Linked DNA regions of Homo sapiens: region 1 is linked to region 2. The links come from fine-mapping of genetic effects on gene expression. A gene starts in region 2. The other region holds a variant in brackets. All regions are shown on one strand. Distances are from middle to middle.

Region 1 (8,504 bases), 38 kb after region 2:
GCCTGGCTAACAGAGTGAAACCCCGTCTCTACTAAAAATACAAAAAAAAAATTAGCCAGGTGTAGTGGCAGGCGCCTGTAGTCCCAGCTACTTGGGAGGCTGAGGCAGGAGAATGGCGTGAACCCGGGAGGCAGAGCTTGCAGGGAGCCGAGATGGTGCCACTGCACTCCAGCCTGGGCAACAGAGCGAGACTCCGTCTCAAAAAAAAAAAAAAAAAATTAGCTGAATGTGGTGTTGAGTGCCGTTGGTCCCAACTACTTGGGAGGCTGAGGTGGGAGGATTGCTGGAGCCTGGGAGGCAGAGGTTGGAGTGAGCCAAAATCACGCCACTGCAGTTCCAGTCTAGGTGACAGAGTGAGACCCTGTCTCAAAAAAAAAAAAAAAAAAATAGTCACAATTGACCTCTGACCTCAATTTCAACCCCATCTGATTTTCTGACCTCAACTTTAGCATTCAGCTGGCCATTCAACTCAACTGTCCCATCTGTTGACTTCCCCATCTTTGGTCCTATCTGACCCATGACCTTATTCATGACCCCTCATCTGACTCTCTGACCCCAACCCTTGACCCTCAGTTCTGAGTAACTGACTCCAACTTTTATGTTTGACTGTCCAGCTTGACTATGACAACTGTGTCCTTTCTTTCTATATAACTGTGACCCTAACCATTGACCCCAATGGTGACCTGACCCCAGTCTGACCCTGACTTTATTTTATTTATTTATTTATTTATTTATTTATTTATTTATTTATTTATTTTTGAGACAGAGTCTGGCTCTGTTTCCCAGGCTGGAGTGCAGTGGAGTGATCTCGGCTCACTGTAGCCCCCGCCTCCCAGGTTCAAGCAATTCTACTGCCTCAGCCTCCCCGGTAGCCGCAATTACAGGCGCGAGCTACCACACCTGGCTAATTTTTTTTGTATTTTTAGTAGAGACGGGGTTTCACTATATTGGCCAGGCTGGTTTCGAACTCTTGACCCGAAGCAATCCTCTCGCCTCAGCCTCCCAAAGTGCTAGGATTACAGGCGTGAGCCACTGCACCCAGTCCTGACCCTGACTTTAATCCTGACCCAATTTGATTCCTTAGTGCCACCCTGTGAATCTCTTTGTGACCTCCTGACCAGCCATCCTGTCCCATCTCTGATAAGACCTTGATGCTCAATGACCCTCATTTACCACCCTGACCCTGGCATGTGGGGTGCCACCTCTGGCTGCTCCCCCTTACACCCCAAACCCACCTCCCAACTGATTCCAACTCTTATCTCTCCATCCCCTGTATTTCCTGCCCCCACCACCTCATCCACATATTGACCCCTCAGCTACCGGCTCTCCCGGGTCATTGAGCCACCAGCTGCCTCCTGCCCCAGCTCCCCACGCATCCGACGGCGGATCAGCCTCACCAAGCGTCTCAGTGCGTGAGTCTCGGGGTGTGTGTAGGGGCGGTGATGTGGGCAGATATCAGCAAGGGCTGCTCCTGCCTTAGCCTCATCCCCTGTCCCCATCCTTAGGAAGCTTGCCCGAGAGAAAAGCTCATCACCTAGTGGGAGTCCCGGGGACCCCTCATCCCCCACCTCCAGGTGAGCATTCTGCTTGGTGATGGGACTGGGGATCATGGGATCAGGAGTCAGCACAGCCACCCCACCTCAGCCTCTGCATCTCCCCCAGTGTGTCCCCAGGGTCACCCCCCTCAAGTCCTAGAAGCAGAGATGCTCCTGCTGGCAGTCCCCCGGCCTCTCCAGGGCCCCAGGGCCCCAGCACCAAGGTACCAAGACGGCTTGTGTGTGCATGCGGGCCTGCGGGCACCCAGGCTCTGTGTGTGTGCACGTGTGTGTGCATGCACATGTGTACACACAGGATTGTGGGGCCAGGAGTGTATACAGGAGGCACACTGAGCGCCCGGGGTATCCATCCAGGGGATTGCATGCATCTGCACGGCCCTGTTTGGGTGATCACTCATAAATCCGACTCGTGCTCAGATTTGGACCTGTGTAACTGCTTGCCCATGGGTCATCTAGGGTGCAATCACATCACACCCCTTTTTATTTGAAACAGGGTCTTCTTGCTCTGTCACCCAGGCTGAAGTGCAGCGGTGCAATCTCAGCTCACCGCAACTTCCACCCCTCCCCCAGGCTCAAGCAATCCTTCCACCTCAGCCTCCCAAGTAGCTAGGACCACAGGTGTGCACCACCATGCCCTGCTATTTTTTTTATTTAGTAGAGATGAGGTTTCGCCATGTTGCCCAGGTGGGTTTCGAACTCCTGAGCTCAAACAATGCACTCACCTCGGCCTCCCAAAGTGCTGGGATTACAGGTGTGAGCCACCGCACCCAGCCTACACTTTTTTGAGGACATGTATGTCCCTAAGAATCTGCATACCATGGCAGACACGGTGGCTATTGCCTGTGATCCCGGCACTTTGGGAAGCCAAAGTGGGAGGATTGCTTGAGGCCGGGAGTTCAAGACCAGCCTGGGCAACATAGTGAGACCCTATTTCTATTAAAAGTCAAAAAAATTAGCTGGGTGTAGTCCCAGCTACTCAGCAGGCTGAGGTGGAAGGATCGCTTGAGTTTGAGGCTGCAGTGAGCTACGATCATGCCACGGCACTCTAGCCTGCATGATAGAGCGAGATCCTGTTTATGAAGAAAAAGAGACTGGGCACGGTGGCTCACGCCTGTAATCCCAGCACTCTGGGAGGCCGAGGTGGGCGGATCACGAGGTCAAGAGATCGAGACCATCCTGGCCAACGTGGTGAAACCCTGTCTCTACTGAAAATAGAAAAATTAGCTGGGTATGGTCGCGCACACCTGTAGTCCCAGCTACTTGGGAGGCTGAGGCAGGAGAATCACTTGAACCCAGGAGACGGAGGTTGCAGTGAGCTGAGATGGTGCCACTGCACTCCATCCAGCCTGGTGACAGAGCGAGGCTCCCTCTAAAAGAAAAACAAAAAAAGAAAAGGAAATGAAGGAAATGAAGGCTGGGCATGGTAGCTCATGCCTGTAATCCCAGCACTTTGGGAGGCCGAGGCCAGTGGATCACTTGAGGCCAGGAATTTGAGACCAGCCTAGCCAACATGGTGAAACCCCGTCTCTACTAAAAATAAAAACATTAGCTGGGCATAGTGGCACAGGCCTGTAATCCCAGCTACTTGGGAGGGTGAGGCATGAGAATTGCTTGAACCTGGGAGGCAGAGGTTGCAGTGAGCTGAGATGGCACCACTGCATTCCAGCCTGGGTGACAGAGCAAGACTCTGTCTCAAAAAAAAAAGAAAAGAAAAAGAAAAGAATCTGTGTACCAGAAGAGGAAATGTGGGCCTGAGTATTCATGAGATCATGTGTGGGGTTGTTCATTGGCATGGGCTGTGGGTGTATAACCGCTGTCAGCATATGTATGTACACAGGATTTCTTGTGTATGAGCATGGGTTGTGTGTATATGGACACTGTTCATGTCTGTTTCTATAACAGGTAACCAAAGTCTGTATATGGTAGGGTGGTGTATATGCAGGCTTGTGAATGTACTCCAGTTGCATGTCCCAGGCTCTGCATGTGTAGGGGGTAGTAGTATGTTTTCTTGAGATTTTATTTTATTTTATTATTTATTTATTTATTTTTGAGATGGAGTCTTGCTCTGTCACGCAGGCTGGAGTGCAGTAGCGTGATCTTGGCTCACTGCAACCTCTGCCTCTCAAGTTCAAGTGATTCTCCTGCCTCGGCCTCCCAAGTAGCTGGGATTACAGGCATGCGCCACCAGGCCCTGCTAATTTTTGTATTTTTAGTAGAGACGGAGTTTC[A/G]CCACGTTGGCCAGGCTGGTCTTGAACTCCCGACCTCAAGTGATCCGCCCACCTCGGCCTCCCAAAATGCTGAGATTACAGGCATGAGCCACTGCGCCCAGCCAATGTTTTCTTGAGATTTTAAATGTGGGGCTATTGAATGCACCAGTGGTGGCTGGGGTGTTCGTGCTTTTCTAGCCCTCAGCATCTGCAGATGGGCCAAGCTGTAGCCTCCACCCCTTACTGCCTGCAGCTGCCCCTGAGCCTGGACCTGCCCAGCCCCCGGCCCTTCGCTTTGCCTCTGGGCAGCCCTCGAATCCCCCTCCCGGCGCAGCAGAGCTCGGAGGCCCGTGTCATCCGCGTCAGCATCGACAATGACCACGGGAACCTGTATCGAAGCATCTTGGTGAGGGGCTGGGCTGGGGGTCTGCTGGAGGCTGCCCTGCCCTTGGGGCCGGGGCCCTCACCTCACCTCCCGCCCCTCTCTTCCAGCTGACCAGTCAGGACAAAGCCCCCAGCGTGGTCCGGCGAGCCTTGCAGAAGCACAATGTGCCCCAGCCCTGGGCCTGTGACTATCAGCTCTTTCAAGTCCTTCCTGGGGACCGGGGTGAGCAGGGATGGGTTGGAGCTCAGGATAGGGGGCAGCGGGGAGGCGAGCAGACTGACCACGCCCAAGGATGGAGCCCAAGGTTACCCGGGTTCACAGGGCTGTGAGGTGCTTCAGGCAGAGAGTAGGGGTAAGATAATCAGTGGAGGTAAGAGGACATAAAATACCTGTAACCCAACGATGTAGGGTCATGAGATTGTCTTGGCTCAGTGTGAGAGAGAGGTACCAAAGGTCATCTTCCTAAAATTTAAAAGACAATAAGATTGTCCAGGGTCCGGCCAGGCGCAGTGGCTCATGTCTGTAATCCCAGCACTTTGGGAGGTCAAGCTGGGCGGATCACTTGAGGTCAGGAGTTTGAGACCAGGCTGACCAACGTGGTGAAACCCCGTCTCTACGAAACATACAAAAATTAGTCGGGTGTGGTGGCACACTCCTGTAGTCCCAGCTACTCAGGAGGCTGAGGCAGGAGAATAATTGCTTGAATCTGGGAGGCGGAGGTTGCAGTGAGCCGAGATCATACCACTGCACTTCAGCCTGGGCAGCAGAGCGAGACTCTGTTTAAAAAAAAAAAAAAAAAAAAAGACTGTCCACGGACAAGTGACAGAAGGGAGTGTTTCTGACCTTCAATTTGTAGGATGGGCTGGGCATGGTGGCTCACAACTGTAATCCCAGCACTTTGGGAGGTCAAGGTGGGTGGATTGTCTGAGCTCAGGAGTTTGAGACCAGCCTGGGCAACATGAGGAGACCCCATCTATACAAAAAATAGAGAAATTGGCTGGGTGCGGTGGCTCAACGCCTGTAATCCCGGCACTTTGGGAGGCCAAAGCGGGTGGATCACTTGAGGTCAGGAGTTCGAGACCAGCCTGGCCAACATGGTGAAGCCCCGTCTCTACTAAAAATACAAAAAAATTAGCTGGGCATGGTGGCACATGCCTGTAGTCTCAGCTACTCGGGAGGCTGAGGCAGAAGAATCGCTTGAACCCAGGAGGCGGAGGTTGCAGTGAGCCGAGATCGCACCACTGCACTCCAGCCTGGCGACTGAGCAAGACTCTGTCTCAAAAAAAAAAAAAAAAAAAAAAAAAAAATATATATATATATATATATATAGAGAGAGAGAGAGAGAGAGAGAGAGAGAGAGAGAGATTAGCTGAGCATGGTGGCATGTGCCTGTATTCCCAACTCCAACTACTGGGGAGGCTGAGGTGGGAGGATCACTTGAGCCTAGGAGGTGGAGGCTGCAGCGAGCTGAGATCACGCCACTGCACTCCAGCCTGGGTGACAGAGCAAGACCCTGTCTCAATTAAAAAAAAAAAAGGGGGCCGGGCATGGTGGCTCACGCCTGTAATCCCAGCACTTTGGGAGGCCGAGGCGGGTGGATCACGAAGTCAAGAGATCGAGACCATCCTGGCCAACATGGTGAAGCCTCGTCTCTACTAAAAATACAAAAAATTAGCCAGGCATGGTGGCAGGCGCCTATAGTCCCAGCTACTCAGGAGGCTGAGGCAGAAGAATCACTTGAACCCAGGAGGTGAAGGTTGCAGTGAGCCAAGATTGCGCCACTGCACTCCAGCCTGGCGACAGAGTGAGACTCCGTCTCAAAAAAAAAGAAAAAATAGATTGTCTAGGGTCGAGTGAGAGAAGGGAGTGTAGAAGTTTGTCTGATCTTAAGTTTGTAGCATCATGAGATTGTTCAGGCTCAACCTGATGGGATGGGAGACTAAAGGGCATCTGGGCTTAGATTTGTGAGAACTAAGTTTGTTCACCACTGGGACCCTGAAGTTATCTGAACTTGGGACGGGAGAGAGGCAAATGGATAGCCGCGGAAGCATGAGATTGTCCTGTCTGACAGGGAGAAGCAAGGGATTGAGCGTATTCACGCTGAAGTACATGGCATGAGGTTGGCTGGATATTAGGAAAGGATGCTTGTGGTTGTTCAGGTGTTGAGTGTGAGGCCACAAGCTCGTGCAGGCTGGAAGTGGGAAGTTATTCAAGTTCATGGTGACAGCAGCATGGGATTGGCTGGGAGTGGTTGTGGGGGAGGGGTAGGGTGAGCAGGAAGTTGTTTGGCGGGGGGTGGTCTAGGGTGGTCTAAGTTTGCCCAAACTTTTACTGCAGGTTGTCGGTTTTGTTTGTTTTTGTTTTTTTTTTTTTGAGATGGAGTCTCGTGCTGTTGCCCAGGCTGGAGTGCAATGGCAGGATCTCGGCTCACCGCAACATCCACCTCCTGGGTTCAAGAGATTCTCCTGCCTCAGCCTTCCGAGTAGCTGGGATTACAGGCATGTGCCACCATGCCTAGCTCATTTTTTTGGTATTTTTAGTAGAGACGGGGTTTCACCATGTTGGCCAGACTGGTCTCGAATTCCTGACCTCAAGTGATCCACCCACTTCGGCCTCCCAAAGCGCTGGGATTACAGGCACGAGGCATCGCGCCCGGCCAGTTTGCTCAAACTTTTACTGCAGGTTGCCTTGTCTCTATGGTGAGGGGGAGAATATTAGGAGGTTGCCCAGGCTTATGATAAGGGAAGGCATGAGGTGGTGCAAGTTTTCAAGTGAGAAGTCGTCCAGGTTCCCAGTGACAGCAGAATGAGCTTGGCTTGGCAGTAGCTGCAGAGGGACCCATGGCTGTTCAGGTTCGCGGGTGAGTGGCAGGAGGCTCCCGGGTCCTCTGTGGGGGTGACACAAGGTTGTGAGGGCCTATTACCACCATCTCCACTCCTGACCAGTGCTCCTGATTCCTGACAATGCCAACGTCTTCTATGCCATGAGTCCAGTCGCCCCCAGAGACTTCATGCTGCGGCGGAAAGAGGGGACCCGGAACACTCTGTCTGTCTCCCCAAGCTGAGGCAGCCCTGTCCTCTCCACAAGACACAAGTCCCACAGGCAAGCTTGCGACTCTTCTCCTGGAAAGCTGCCATCCCCCAGTAGAGGCCACTGTGCTGTGTATCCCAGGACCACCACCCAACTGTAGCCCATTGGACCCCATCTCTTTTTCTGACTCTGTTGGTACTAGATCCATATTCCAAAGACATCAGCCCATGGGTGGCTGGTGGAGAGCTCAATCCCATAAATGTAGAAAGAGGTGGGGCATGGATACGTCAAATCCCTCCCCAGAGAAATCTTATAAATGTTAGAGACGCATCAGAAGTGACAGATGCGGATGAAAATAGTGACCAGAGTTATGAAACAGGTGTCAGTCTTGTTTATTTTGCGCCTGTGTGCCATGTTCACCCTTTATCAAGATAAAGGAAAACAGCTACCACACACACACCCACACACACACACACAAACACACAGAGAGAGAGAAACCTAAGAGCCAAGACCAGCCCGGGCAACATAACGAGATCCTGTCTCTACAAAAAATACAAAAATTTGGCTGGGCGTGGTGACTCACGCCTGTAATCCCAGCGTTTTGGGAGGCCAAGGCAGGCAGATCGCCTGAGGTCAGGAGTTCGAGACCAGCCTGGCCGACATGGCAAAACCCCATCTTCTAAAAGTACAAAAAATTAGCCGGGCGTGGTGTCATGCACCTGTAATCCCAGCTACTGGGGAGGCTGAGGCAGGAGAATTGCTTGAACCCGGAAGGTGGAGGTTGCAGTGAGTGGAAATCACACCACTGTACTCCAGCCTGGGTGACAGAGCAAGACCCTATCTCAAAAACAAACAAACAAACAAATGAACAAACAAAAAATTTTCTGAGTGTGGTGATATGAGACTGTAATCCTACCTACTTGGGAGGCTGAGCTGGGAGAATCACCAGAGCCCTGGGAGGTTGAAGCTGCAGTGAGCAGTGACTGGGCCCCTGCACTCCAACCTGGAGGACAGAGGGAGATCCTGTCTCAAAAACAAAAAAACTAAGAGCCCTAAGAAAGGTGTTGAGTCGGGTATGACACTCAACCCAGATGCCAGAGAGGATCCTGTCTGGCCGGACACAGTGGCTCAGGAGGGTAATCCCAGTACTTTGGGAGGCTGAGGTAAGAGGATTGCTTAAGTTCAGGAGTCCGAGAGCAGCCTGGGCAATACAGTGAGATCACATCTCACTAAATAAATAAATAAAGGATCCTATCACACAAAGAGGGTTTAGGACTTCCTTCCCCAACATTTTTGGGGTGATATGCCTCTTTTCTACTGTATATA
Region 2 (8,500 bases):
AAAATACAAATTTTAGCCGGGTGTGGTGGTGGATGCCTGTAGTCCCAGCTACTCAGGAGGCTAAGGCAGAAGAATCGCTTGAACCCGGGAGGCAGAGGTTAGAGTGAGCCGAGATCGCGCCACTGCACTCCATCCAGCCTGGGCAACAGAGTGAGACTCTGTCTCACAAAAAAAAAAAAAAAAAAAAAAAAAAAGAAAAGAAAAATTTTTCTGAGACGGGTCTCACTGTGTTGCCCAGGCTGGTCTCAAACTCCTGGGTTAAGGTGATCCTCTCGCCTTAGCCTCCCAAAGTGCTGGGATTACAGGTGTGAGCCACATGCCCAACCAGTAATTTTTTAAATTATAATTTCCAATTTTTATTTTTACTTTTTAATTTTTTTTTTTTACTTTTTATAGAGATAGGGTATCGCTATTTTGCCCAGGCTGGTCTCAAACTCCTGGGCTCAAGCAGTCTTCCTGCCTCAGCCTCCCAAAATGCTGGGATTACAGGCAGGAGCCACCATGAGCCGGGTCTTATTTTTTCATATCAGACAGGTAATGCGCCAAGGTCGCAACAAGGTTTAAGGGAGGCGTATCTCTCACACGTGCATAAAAACCTAATCATCGTGGCCAAGCGCGGCGGCTTAGCACTTTGGGAGGCTGAGGCGAGCAGATCACCTGAGGTCAGGCGTTCGAGGCCAGCCTGGCCAACATAGTGAAACCATCTCTACCAAAAATACAAAAGTTAGCCAGGCGTGGTGGGGGTACGCCTGTATTCCCAGCTACTTGGGAGGCTGAGGTGTGAGAATTGCTTGAACCCGAAGGGCAGAGGTTGCAGTGAGCCAAGATCACGCCACTGCACTCCAGCCTGGGCGACAGAGTGAGACCCTGTCTCAAAAAATATAAATAAATAAAAATAAATCATCATGCCTATGAACTACAAAAGGATCAGCTGGCAGGAATTGAGAACAGCTGTTCCCCTAGATGCCACAATCCCCACCCCTCCGTATTGCCTCATACTTGGCCTCCTTCTGTTGTATGCTTTTTTTTTTTTTGCTTTTTTTTTGAGACGGAGTCTCACTCTGTTGCCCAGGCTGGATTGCAGTGGTGCGATCTCGGCTCACTGCAACCTCTGCCTCCCGTGTTCACGCCACTCACCTGCCTCAGCCCACCGAGTAGCTGGGACTACAGGCGCCCGCCACCACACCCAGCTAATTTTTTGTATTTTTAGTGAGACGGAGTTTCACCATGTCAGCCAGGATGGTCTCGATCTCCTGACCTCGTGATCCGCCTGCCTCAGCCTCCCAAAGTGCTGGGATTACAGGTGTGAGCCACCGCGCCTGGCCTCCTTCCGTTGTATACTTTACCTGCCTGTGGGTGTTTCGGTTTTCAGGACCTGCTGCAGAGCGTGACAATGGAAAGTTTAGAGTCCAAGTGCCGGCTCTGCTATCTCCTATGTGACCCTGGGGAAGTCATTTCCCTTTCTAAACTTGAGTTCCCCCATCTGTTGAATCGGGAAACAATCCTACCTGCTTCCAGACTAGAGGGAAAGGTGGGGATTAGGATTCACAAGGCACCTGGCACAGACAGAGAACCCGATACAGAAAAGCAGAAGAGAGAGTGGGCCCGATTCACTGGGTGGAGCCAGGCAAAGTCTTGGGGTGGGGTGATGGGAGGGGTACTGTCACCCACGTACTTGCAGGTGTTCTCACAGATGACGCCGCTGTTGTACTCGTCTGTTCCATCGCAGCAGTCTGTGGCAGAGGCAGAAGCCAAGATCAGACCTGGCAGTGCCTCCTCCCTCCCTCCCTCTACCACCTTTCCAGAATCCTGGTGCATCTTCACTTACCACAAACACCATCGTTGACCCGGTTGGAGGGGATATACAGGGGCTTATAGCCAGTGTTGGTGCAGTGGAAGCTGCCATTAGGACAGGCAGCCGTGCCTGTGAGGAAGAAGGGAGGGAAGGTTTTCGGAGTCAGCTCAGGGACAGACATGTCCCATCCATCCACAGATAAGAGCCCCTGACCCACACTGCACACAGCACAAGAAAGGAAAGGAAACCAAAGGAAGGAAAGAGTTGTACACTGCACAGCCAGGGCTCGAAATAAAGCTCTCCAGTGCCGCCTCCTGCCTCTTCTCACTGAGGCCCTTCAAAACAGGGTCTCCACCTGGCACGGGGGCTCACACCTGTAATCCCAGCACTTTGGGAGGCCGAGGCGGGTGGGTCACCTGAGGTGATGAGTTTGAGACCAGCCTGGCCAACACGATGAAACTCCATCTCTACTAAAAATACGAAAAATTAGCCGGATGTGGTGGCATGTGCCTGTAATCCCAGCTACTCAGGAGGCTGAGGCAGGAGAATCGCTTGAACCCGGGAGGTGGAGACTGCAGTGAGCCAAGATCATGCCACTGCACTCCAGCCTGGGCGATAAGAGTGAAACTCCATCTCAAAAAAAAAAATTAAAAACAAAACAAAACAAGGCCAGGTACGGTGGCTCACGCCTGTAATCCCAACACTTTGGGAGGCCGAGGCGGGTGGATCACAAGGTGACGAGATCGAGACCATCCTGGCTAACACAGTGAAACCCTGTATCTACTAAAAATACAAAAAAAAACTAGCTGGGCGTGGTGGTGGGTGCCTGTAGTCCCAGCTACTCAGGAGGCTGAGGCAGGAGAACGGTGTGAACCCGGGAGGCGGAGCTTGCAGTGAGCCGAGATGGCGCCACTGCACTCCAGCCTGGGAAACAGAGCAAGACTCCGTCTCAAAACAAAAACAAAACCAAAGACACGGTCTCATCCAGGCACGGTGGCTCACACCTGTAACCCCAGCACTTTGGGAGGCCAAGGCAGGAGGATGACTTGAGCCCAAGAGTTCCAGGCTGCAGTGAGCTACGATCATGCCACTGTACTCCAGCCTCAGCAACAAAGCAAGACCCTGTCTCTTCAAAACACACAAAAACAAAAAGCCAGGGTCTCCCTTCACCTCTGTCTCCTGCTGGATTGCTCTTGGCCCCACCCTGTCTCCCACTTCTAGGGGTTTGCCCGTGTTGACCCCTCCATCTGCAGCACCTTCGGGATTCAACTGAAACCTCACCTCCTTGGAGGAGCCTTCTCTGACCCCGAGGCTTGGGAGGAGGACGACTCTGGGCTCCTCCAGCTGCCCGGGGCCATAACACTGACCACTGACTTCTGAGCTTGTTTCTGCCCACTCAAAGGGGAGCCAGCAGAGGTAGTATCTTGGTCACACAGACAGGGCCTGGCACTGAGCAGTGTTCAATAAACATCTGATGGATGAACAGAGAAAAGGCTCACCTGGCTCGTCAGAGCCATCTTTGCAGTCGCAATAGTCATCGTTGACCTGATCAAATGGGATGGTGGCCGAACCGTCCAGGCAGGTGAAAGGCTTGGACTCATCGTAGAAGTGATGATCTGCGGGGTACAGGAAGCTCAGCCCAGGGCAGGTAAGCGCCTTCTCCACCAAATACCACCTCTGTCCTCCCATCCCCACCAGCGGAGCACTACCGGGAAACTGAGTCAAAAGGCTGTAAATGCCTATCCCTAAGGCCCAATGTTGGCCCCTCCCACCTCCAGCCTGGCGGGAGGGTGAACAGGAGGACTCACTGGTGAGGGAGACGCCCCGGGGCCTCTTGACCTCCACGGCCCAGCACATGGGTAGCAGCAGCAGCAGCGGCAACAGCATCTCACCAGACGCTCTGAGGCCCGAAACGGGTTCTGTGGGAGGAAGCCTACAGCGGGGAGATGCGCTGTGTCTTCACGCTGCAGGAAGAAAGCGGATCCCGGTCAGTGGGAGAGGGCTACTTCCAGCCAATTGGATTCCTCCATCGCTTCCAGGCAATGAGGCCTCACTTTGTTTCCGATATGGGGGCGAGGGGCAGCGATCTCCCCAATCCTGGCCAGTCTCACTTTGCTCAAATCAATGGCGAGGATCTCAAGATCTCAAAACCTCCGCTCCCTGTGCCCAATTGTGACCCAATTCCCGCCAACAGACCAAAGGGATTAACAGCCTCCGCCGTCCACACCCACACATGCACCCTCCGGTTGCCCCCTGTAAGAAACTGAGGTGCCCTCCCACCCGCTCGTTCACACCTACACGAGGCCGGAGCAAAGGTCAGTATCCACCGCACCCCTCTTGTCCAGCAGCCGCGGTTCCTGCTGCAGAAAGAAAGCGGAAATTTCTGGACCCCGTCACTTCCGGTCGTACGTTCCGCACCGGGAACGGAGACTCAGGGTCGCCATGTTGGGAGAGGCAGGAGTGGGGGCGGTGCCAGAGCCGAGACGGCCATCTTGGGCAGGACTGTGAAACCTTAGAGAGGATAGTTCTGAGGGCTAGCTCTTAATGGCGGCGCAGCGTACCTCCATCTTGGGAGTGGCGGCTTCTCAAGCCGGAAAGAAAGTTCCTGAAAAATGCCCGCGAACCCCCAGGGGCGGGATAAGGTTGGGGGAGGTAGGGAAACGGAATGAGCACGTGACCCCAAAGTGTCCAGACCCTCCGTCCTGCGGCGCGGCTCTACCCCGCCCACTGTTGGGACCGCCCCTCTATGCAGCCTCAGCCAATGAGAACGCAGTGTCAGCCACGGAACGCGGGTGATCTCCATGGAAACAGTGGAGAGAGACGGGGAGGCGGTTACCTGGCAACCGAGAGATGCGGAGCGCAACCACCTAGCGGTCGGAAAGTGCATTTTTCAGAGCCCTAGGAATCCGAGCTGACGGATCCCTGACAGGGGCGACTGACTCCTAGTTATCCCCCTAACCCCTAGGGGCCTTCAGCCCCAACCCCATCATGACATCTCCTCTGTGCAGGGCGGCCTCCGCCAACGCCCTGCCTCCTCAGGACCAGGCTTCGACGCCCTCTTCCAGGGTCAAGGGCAGGGAGGCTTCGGGCAAACCCAGCCACCTCCGAGGCAAGGGCACAGCCCAGGCGTGGACCCCAGGCCGTTCCAAGGGAGGATCCTTCCACAGAGGTGCAGGGAAGCCCTCTGTGCACTCTCAGGTGGCTGAGTTACATAAAAAGATACAACTGTTAGGTAAGATGGCTCCAGAGGGTACAGAGGGTCAGGGGTCAACAGTGCCCATCCAATCTTCATGGTGTGACAAAGGTATTTCTCCAGCATGAGTCTAGGTAAACCGTTTCTGGGCAAAAACTCATACTTAGTTCATGTTTTTCCTTCTCTGTCTCTTAAAACTTCTCATGGGTTCAGAACCGACTGAACTGTACTTCATACTTTCTTGTAATTTATTTTCTCTATTTTTTTTTTTTTTTTTGGCAGAATCTCACTCTGTTGCCAGGTGGGAGTGCAGTGGAACGATTTCGGCTCACTGCAACCTCCGCCTCCCGGGTTCAAGCGATTCTCCTGCCTCAGCCTCTTGAGTAGCTGGGACTACAGGCACACGCCACCACGCCTAACTAATTTTTGTATTTTTAGTACAGAGGGATTTCACCATATTGGCCAGGGTGGTCTCAATCTCTTGACCTCCCAAACTGCTGGGATTACAGGCGTGAGCCCGCCTCGGCCTCCCAAACTGCTGGGATTACAGGCGTGAGCCACTGCACCCGCGTTTTTTTTTGTTTTGTTTTTTGTTTTTTGAGACAGGGTCTTGCTCTGTCGCCTAGGCTGGAGAGCAGTGGCATGATCTCGGCTCACTGCAACCTCTGCCTCCAAGGTTCAAGCGATTCTCGAGCCTCAGCCTCCTGACTAGCTGGGACTATAGGTGCGTGCCACCACACCTAATTTTTATATTTTTAGTAGAGACTGGGTTTCACCATGTTGGCCAGGCTGGTCTCGAACTCCTGATCTCAAGTGATCCACGGCCTTGGCTCCCAAAGTGCTGGGATTACATGTGTGAGCCACCGCGCCCAGCCTTCTTTCTTTCTGACAGGGTCTTGCTCTGCTGTTGAGGCTGGAGTGTAGTGGTTGGATAACAGTTCACTGCAGACTTGACCTCCTAGGCTCAAGCGATCCTTCCACCTCAGCCTCCTGAGTAGCTGGGACTACAGGCATACACCACTGTGCTTGGCTAATTTTCTTACTTTTTGTAGAGATGGGGTCTCACTATGCTGCCCAGGCTGGTCTCAAACTCCTGGGCTCAAGCAATCCTTCCTCCTCAGCCTCCCAAAGTGCTGGGGTTACAGGCATGGGCCGCTGCACCTGGCCTGAGCATAGATTTTTAGAGCCAGATTTTCTGGGTTGGAATCCTGGCTCTGCATAATAGTTGTCCAACCTTGGGGGACTAAGAGTAACCTAATTGTTCTCAGTTTCTCGATGTGTGAAATGGGGATAGTAACAGTACAACATAGGTACCTGAAATGTGTAAAGTGCTTAGAACAGTGCCTGGCACATAGCAAAGTACCATAAGGTGTAAACCAGTGGTTCTTGTTGGAAAAGGGTTGGTTTGCCCCACAGGGGCCATTTGGCAATGTCCTAAGACATTGAGACCAGCATGGCCAACACGGTGAAACGCTGTCTCTACTAAAAATACAAAAAATTAGCCGGGCATGGTGGCATGGATGTCTGTTGTGGGTGTGTGTCTGCCACTGGCATCTAGTGGGCAGAGTTGAAGATGCTGCCCAACATTCTGCAAAACACAGGAGAGCACCCCACGGCAAATAATTATTCGGCCCAGTTGTTGGTCATCCTGAGGTTGCAGAATCCTTGTGTGTAAGCTATTATTATTGCTTTTGTTGATATTATTAAGAGGTAATCATGGCTGGGCGAGGTGGCTCACACCTGTAATCCCAGCACTTTGGGAGGCTGAGGTGGGCGGATCATTTGAGGTCAGGAGTTTGAGACCAGCCTGGCCAACATAGTGAAACCCCATCTCTACTAAAAGTACAAAAATTAGCCGGGCATGGTGGCGCACGCCTGTAATCCCAGCTACTTGGAAGGCTGAGGCAGGAGAGGGGCTTGAACCCAGGAGGTGGAGGTTGCGGTGAGCCAGGATTGCGCCACTGCACTCCAGCCTGGGTGACAGAGTGAGATTCCGTCTTAAAAAAAAAAAAGGGTAATCTTGCATGGTTGCTTGTGACCTTAAGCAGTTTAATCAGCCCAAGCCTCTGTCTTGTCATCTGTGCAAGGGGTATGATATGCGTATGCCATGGATACCTATTGGCACGTGATATATGGCATTCGGAAACCTCTTAGTCCAGCATCCAACACATAATAAATGCTCACAGTGAAGTACAGTTGACCGTTGAACACCATGTGTTCACATATATCATTCATCCTTTCAAGTTAAAAAAAATTGAGATGGGCAGGCCGGGCACAGTGGTTCATACCTGTAATCCCAGCACTTTGGGAGGCTGAGGCAGGAGGATTGCTAGAGGCCAGGAGTTCGAGACCAGCCTGGGCAACATAGTGAGATCCTTGACTCTACAAAAAATAAAGTAGCCAGATGTGGTGGCACATGCCTCTAGTCCTAGCTACTTGGGAGGCTGAGGCAGGAGGACTGCTTGAGCTCAGGAGGTTGAGGCTTCAGTGAGCAGTGATAGCACCACTGCACTTCATTCTGGGTGACAGAGCAAGACCCAGTCCCAAAAAAGAAAAGAAAAGAAAATACAACAGTCCTGGAATGCAAAACCTGAGTATACAGAGGGACAACTGTTTGTATCTGCAGGTTCCACAGGGCTGACTGTGGGACTTGAGTATGGAAGGATTTTGGGGTTTTTTGTTTTGTTTTGTTTTGTTTTTTGAGACAGAGTCTTGCTCTGTTGCCCAGGCTGGAGTGCAGTGGCAGGATCTCAGCTCAATGCAACCTCCACCTCCAGAGGTCAAGTAATTATTGTGCCTCAGCCTCCTGTAGCTGGGATTACAGGCACCCACCATCATGCCCGGCTAATTTTTTTTTTTTTTTTTTTTTGAGGCAGAGTCTCGCTCTGTCACCCAGGCTGGAGTGCAGTGGTGCGATCTCGGCTCACTGCAAGCTCTGCCTCCCAGGTTCACACCATTCTCCTGCCTCAGTCCCCTGAGTAGCTGGGACTACAGGTGCCTGCCACCATGCACGGCTAATTTTTTTTTTTTTTTGTATTTTTAGTAGAGGCGGGATTTCACTATGTTAGCCAGGATGGTCTCGATCTCCTGACCTCGTGATCCGCTCACTTTGGCCTCCCAAAGTGCTGGGATTATGGACGTGAGCCACCGTGCCCGGCCATGCCCAGCTAATTTTTGTATTTTTGTAGAGATGGGGTTTCACCATGTTGGCCAGGCTGATCTTGAACTCTTGACCTCAGGTGATCCGCCCGCCTCTACCTCCCAAAGTGCAAGGATTACAGGAACGAGCCATCATGCTCAGCCTCACACCTGGCTAATTTTTGTATTTTTAGTAGAGATGCGGTTTTACCATGTTGGCCAGGCTGGTCAACGACTGCATTCTTATAATATTAAGTTGATGAGCCTGGCACAGTGGCTCACACCTATAATCCTAGGACTTTAGGGGGCCTAGAACTTTGGGAACACCTGAGGTCAGGAGTTCGAGACCAGCCTGACCAACATGGAGAAACCCC

Evidence for each region. PIP is the estimated chance that this variant, and not a neighbour inherited with it, causes the effect.
Region 1: its variant is fine-mapped to the expression of PRKCSH in whole blood (TOPMed, PIP 0.95).

The regions. Positions count from the first base shown.
Region 1 is chr19:11,393,110-11,401,613 of GRCh38, reverse strand. RGL3 (ral guanine nucleotide dissociation stimulator like 3) reads left to right here. Exons shown (of 19, transcript NM_001035223.4): 14 at 1,317-1,412; 15 at 1,506-1,574; 16 at 1,663-1,759; 17 at 4,017-4,169; 18 at 4,256-4,370; 19 at 7,094-7,554. The coding sequence ends at 7,212. Among named protein-coding and RNA genes, the nearest start is that of EPOR, 13 kb to the right of the region's middle. The variant A/G (reference allele first, on the strand shown) is at 3,785.
Region 2 is chr19:11,431,300-11,439,799 of GRCh38, reverse strand. It overlaps PRKCSH (PRKCSH beta subunit of glucosidase II), which reads right to left and starts at 4,165. Exons shown (of 18, transcript NM_001289104.2): 1 at 4,094-4,165; 2 at 3,604-3,759; 3 at 3,295-3,411; 4 at 1,829-1,924; 5 at 1,676-1,733. The coding sequence starts at 3,682. It overlaps ODAD3 (outer dynein arm docking complex subunit 3), which reads left to right and starts at 4,679. Exons shown (of 13, transcript NM_145045.5): 1 at 4,679-5,027. The coding sequence starts at 4,784. It also overlaps the pseudogene LOC124904800. RefSeq lists enhancers at 3,608-3,827, 4,078-4,487, 4,061-4,560.